2 separate regions of the Homo sapiens genome follow, and region 2 is linked to region 1. Evidence: fine-mapped expression QTL. A gene starts in region 1. The other region holds a variant in brackets. All regions are shown on one strand. Distances are from middle to middle. Region 1 holds the start of SYT9 (synaptotagmin 9). Region 2 overlaps SYT9 (synaptotagmin 9).

Evidence for each region. PIP is the estimated chance that this variant, and not a neighbour inherited with it, causes the effect.
Region 2: its variant is fine-mapped to the expression of SYT9 in cerebellar hemisphere (GTEx, PIP above 0.99). The same link has a PIP of 0.9 or more in cerebellum.

What each region holds. Positions count from the first base shown.
Region 1 is chr11:7,250,529-7,253,442 of GRCh38, reverse strand. SYT9 (synaptotagmin 9) reads right to left here and starts at 1,539. Exons shown (of 7, transcript NM_175733.4): 1 at 1,112-1,539. The coding sequence starts at 1,256. RefSeq lists a silencer at 1,507-1,646.
Region 2 is chr11:7,372,172-7,375,085 of GRCh38, reverse strand. The region is part of intron 3 of SYT9 (synaptotagmin 9); the gene reads right to left. Among named protein-coding and RNA genes, the nearest start is that of SYT9-AS1, 92 kb to the left of the region's middle. The variant A/G (reference allele first, on the strand shown) is at 1,555.

The DNA of each region.
Region 1 (2,914 bases):
CTTTAATTTATCTTTTGGATAAATGGATTTTTATATAATAAATTGTTTTCAATTCGTACATCATAATTTGCAAGGCAATAGCTCATTTCCAATATTTATACATAGCAATATCAAGAGAAAGGCCATTTTCTCATCCCATTTTTAACAATCCAACCACAATATGCTGTTTTGGTAAGTACTTAGGTTGGGAGAATATTCGAGAAAACTATTTCTCCAGGTGAGAAACATCTCAAGCAAACATTGGAAGGAATGCATTTTCCAGTAGCCAGTAACGGATGAGACGACCTGGGAGACCCAGGGACCTCAGGAAAAGCAAATGGCTCCACTAAAACTCCCTCCTCCAACCTTAATTGGTCAAATGCCAAAATAAATGAACTTTCCAAAGTTAAGAGCTTTGCAACTTTCACTAGGAGTAACTACAGGTGCACAAGCCAGGACCGACGAGTCTACGAACCCCATCGTGGCCGGCGGTAGTCGCTGGTCGAGCCTAGCGCCCAGGCCCAGGCCACCTCCATGCCGTGCGACCCGCCGGGAACGGGTTCAGGCCCGTCTGCCCAAGGCCAGAAGCACCCTGTCCCCGGCCCAACGCCGGATCGCGTCCCGCCCTTCTCACCCCATACCAAGGAAAGGAACTAGACGCTTGGGAGAAAGGATGAGCAGCACCCGGTGGGATTCGGCCCCAACCCGGGGCCGTCCCCAACTCCCAACTTCCCAGAGTTTCCTTCGGCCTCGTCCCCCTTCCCACGGCTCCGAGGCCGCCGCGGCCTCCCCTCGCTCTGAGTGCAGATAGCCCGGGAAGTGGAGAGCGTAGCTCGGAGCTAGGGAGCCGCCCCCAGGAGCCTTGGCGATGGGAGCGCAGGTGGCGGGCGTGGTCCCTCCAACCCTGCCCTAGCCGACCCGGAGTCGGCCTCCGTGCAGTAGCCACCGCCCGGGTCCCCGCCTGGTTACAGCATCAGGCCACAGTGCGCTGGTTCTTGATCACTCTCCTGGCTCGGTGGCCGCCCCCCGCCCTCTCCCAGTCCGCGTCGCTGTTCTGCCTCAGGCCCCGGTGCGGCCCCAAGTCCCAGCCCAGGGCCCTTAGGTCCCTCCAGGCGGCGGTGGCGGCACTCACCTGGGTCGCGGAGCCGGGGTCTGGCACGGTCCCGCAGGTGGTAAATGAAATCCTGGCAGCTGTCGTGCTCCAGGGCCCCACGGGCACAGAGCTCGGCCAGCAGCTGCAGCGCCTGGTGACAGAGCGCGTCCCTGGCCCCGGGCATCGCCCCCCCGCATCCTCGGACCGCGCCGGGCAGGCGGGCGCAGGAGACAGCCCTCCGCCTGCCAGCTCAGAGCCGCCGCCTCCGGGCCGTCCGCGCTCACCGCCAGGGACCTGCCGAGAAACGGTGCGAGCCTGAGCCCGAGCCCCAGACCCAGCCGGCCCGGCCTCCCACCGGTTGCATGCAGCTCTTCGCCAGCCGGTCGGTCAGGCTTTCTCTCTCTCCCGCCCGGTCCCTCCGTCCCTCCCCAGACACCGAGGAGAGGCGGTGCCGCACAGCCCAGAGCGCCTCTCTGCTTGCGCTCCGCCCGCTACTCGCGGCCGCCGGGGGGCGGGGCCAGGTCAGGAGTGCGCGCCGCAGGGTAGGATAGCGGCGGCCCCAGACCGGGGACCTGGGGTACTCCCCGGCTCCTGGCCGAGCGCGAGACTTGGCTTGGGACCTCGCGCCCAGAGCGGCCGCGCCCTGGCTTGGGGAGTGTGAGTGAGTGCGCGCTCCGGGCGCTTTCGCTACTCCACCCCTCATCCCTGATGCAAACCAAGCACCCGCTCCCACCGCCGAGTGTGTCCAAAGCACGTTCTTGGATGCCTAGTGCGAAGGTTACAATCTGGGCACACCCGCCAGATGCGCAGAACCGAGTCCCTGCTTCGAACTTGGAAAGAGCCGCCTGGGTTTGAACCATGGGCCTATGGGTGTCAGATGCCCAAATGCAGGGTTTGGGTCCAAGATTCGCCAACAAAGGAAGGATTTCCCAAGCACAGGCCCTTTTCGACCACTGTGGTGATTTGGATGGAGAAGGTGGAGGCTCTAGGTCAGAACTAAGATCAAATAAATAAACGATTCCTGGGAAAGACCCTGAGGCTTACCTGGGCTTCGTGGGTCCCTTAGTTTTCTAAGCAACCGTTTGGAAATCCAAACATTGCCAAAGTGTCTTCAGCACCCAAGGAGGAGTATCACAGAATCTTGGAGAGTTGGAAGGAACCTCAGGGCACCTCTCATCCACCCATCTTTTCAGCCTTTCAAGCAGTAAAGCCTAGAAATAACCACGAAGTACTCTGGGTGTGTGTGTGTGTGTGTGTGTGTGTGTGTGTGTCACTGTGCCACAAGCCTTTTAGGTACATAATCTCATTTAATTCTGTACATAGCCCAACAAGGTCTGTGTAATTGTTATCCTCATTTTACCAATGAGAAACTGGGGCCTGGGGACTCACAAAGGTGTTACTTGCTCAAATTCATACATGATGAAGGTAGCTTTGATTTTCTCTCTTTCTTTTTTCTTTTTTCCTTCTTTTTCTTTTGTCTTTTTTGTAATACTGGTGTTCAGGCCCCCACTCTAGAGCAATTAGAGTAGGATCTCTAGAACTGGTAACTATCATTCTTAGCCATGAGGTTGTGCCGTCTCTACGGACATATCACAACAATTCATATTTGCACAGAAAGATAATTTGGGATCCTATAGAATGCTCACGCAACAGGCAACCTTTGAAATCCTGCTGTGAATGGTACTAGGGTTTCAGGGAACTTACATGGGAATAGCAGAGAAAATGCAAAGTTGTAAAGGTAAAGATGCCTCCAGAGAGTTGCAAAGAGACAAACAGAGGGAGGAGAAACCAGCTTTAAGGGAGCCTGTAGGGGAGGTTGAGCAGATGCTGTTTCTTCAAAGG
Region 2 (2,914 bases), 120 kb before region 1:
AACTCAAGATGGATTAAAGACTTAAACGTAAGACCTAAAACCATAAAAACCCTAAAAGGAAACCTAGGCAATAATTCAGGACATAGGCATGGGCAAAGACTTCATGACTAAAACACCGAAAGCAATGGCAACAAAAGCTAAACTTGACAAATCAAATCTAATTAAACTAAAGAGATTCTGCACAGGGAAAGAAACTATCATCAGAGTGAACAGGCAACCTACAGAATGGGAGAAAATTTTTGCAATCTATCCATCTGACAAAGGGCTAATATCCAGAATCTACAAGGAACTTAAACAAATTTACAAGAAAAAAACAATCAACCCCATCGAAAAGTGGGTGAAGGATATGAACAGACACTTCTCAAAAGAAGACATTTATGTGGCCAAGAAACATATGGCAAAAAGCGCATCATCATTGGTCATTCGAGAAAAGAAAATCAAAACCACAATGAGATACCATCTTGTGCCAGTTAGAATGGCAATCATTAAAAAGTCAGGAAGCAACAGATGGTGGAGAGGATGTGGAGAAATAGGAACGCTTTTACTCTGTTGGTGGGAATGTAAATTAGTTCAACCATTGTGGAAGACAGTGTGGCAATTCCTCAAGGATCTAGAACTAGAAATACCATTTGATCTTTAAATCCCATTACTGGGTATATACCCAGTGGATTATAAATCATTCTACTAGAAAGACACATGCACACGTATGTTTGTTGCAGCACTATCCACAATAGCAAAGACTTGGAAACAACCAAATGCCCATAATGATAGACTGAATAAAGAAAATGTGGCACATATACACCATGGAATGTCACATATCCATAAAAAAGAATGAGTTCATGTCCTTTGCAGGGACAGGGATGAAGCTGGAAACCATCATTCTCAGCAAACTAACAAAGGAACAGAAAACCAAACACGGCATATTCTCACTCATAAGTGGGAGTTGAACAATGAGAACATATGGGCACAGGGAGGGGAACATCACACACCAGGGCCTGTTGGGGGTGTGGAGCAAGGGGAGGGATAGCATTGGGAGAAATACCTAATGTAGATGATGGGTTGATGGGTGCAGGAAACCACCATGGCAAATGTATACCTATGTAACAAACCTGCATGTTCTGCACATGTACCCCAAAACTTAAAGTATAATAATAATAATAAAAGAACTCTCTAGGACAATCTAGAAAAATGTAAAAAGAATGTTGGACATGTTCATCAGGAAGCCTTTCCCCCAAACGAAGTGTCCCAATTACAACAATTGCAGGCATCTCCTTCCAAGGTCTCTAACAGAGAAAATTTAAGGCTTTCCCACCCTCCAGGTGCTTCCAAACATCTGGAGGAGGGAGTCCAGGCATTATTCTGAGTTATGTGAAACTGCCATTTTTGTAGGTTGAAACTGGTGGGATATGGGGAGTTTCATATGTTCAACCTATTACATGGCTCAGGGCCAGTAGAACTGTGTTTATTGCTGCCCTAGGTACACCCTGCAGCTTAGTTCATGAGGGCTTATTCCAAAATAAAATACAAATCTGAACAACTCAGGGCCTCTGGAAC[A/G]GAGACAAAGCCTATGCTTGGCAGCAGGGGAACCAAGAGCAGTTTCCAGAGCAGGTAAAACAGGGAGCCTTAGGAACCTCCAGAGCTCGACATATGCCAGTATAACAATATAGGAAGAGGAGAGGTGAGGTAGGGAAAAATCTCTCAAGGGTGAAATAGGGGAATGGGAATGATAAAATAACACGTGTAGCTGATGTATTAAAAAATACATTCCAGAGGAGAAAATAATAACAATGCTCCAACTCTTCTATTAAGTTTAGTATAACCCTGAAACCAGTATCAGACAAAGATGCACAAAACAAGGAAGCATATCCATCAAAACAATAACAACAAAGGATGCAAACAAAACTATAGGTCAATTCTTATGTGAATATAATTTTAAAATACTATATAATGTATTAATGAATAAAATCTATCAGTATTAAGAATACACGTCGGCCAAGTAGGATTTATCCCAGAGGCATGGATATTTCAAAATTAGTAAACTAGGAATATAATAAATCATATTAATGAACTGAAGGAGAAAAATTATGCAAACATCTCAATAGAAAAATATTGGGGAATATTTAGCATCCATTCCTAATAAAAATAAATATAAAACCTAATACTGTAACACTAATAACATTATCATTATATTCAGGATCAGTATCGGCTGTCACCACAATTACTCAACAGTTTGGGAGGTTCCAGCTTATGCCATAAAATAATAAAACACGTAAAAGGTAAAATTACAGCAAAAGAGAAGCAAATATATAATTTTTCAAAGAGCATATAATTGCTTAGCTGGAAATCCAATATAACCAAGTGAAGAACTATTGAAACTAATGAGACCAGTGGCTAAGAATAAGTATATAAAAATAAAGAATTCCTACAAATCACAAATCCAAAGATAAACAACACAACTAAAAATGGGGAAAAAAGGAGTGCTTGAAGCCAAGAATTCAAGACCAGTCTGGGCAACATAGAGAGATTCCCCCCTCTACAAAAGAATTTTAAGAAATCACCTGCCTGGGCAATGTAATGAGACCTCATCTTCATAAAAAATTTTAAAATTAGCTAAGGATTGTGGTGCATGACTGTAGTTCCAGCTACTCTGGAGGCTGAGATAGGAGGATCACTTAAGCCTGGGATGTGGAGGTTACAGCAAGCTGAGATTGTGCCACTGCACTTCAGCCTGGGTGACATGTGAGATCTAATCTCAAAAAACAAACACACAGAGCGAGAGAGAGAAAAGAAATGAGCAAAAAAACCCCACATAAATTTAATAAAAGAAGATACACAATATGGTGCTCATCATTAGTCATACAGAAAAGCCACAACGAAATGCCATCATCAGAATGGTTGAAATAAAAAAGATGAC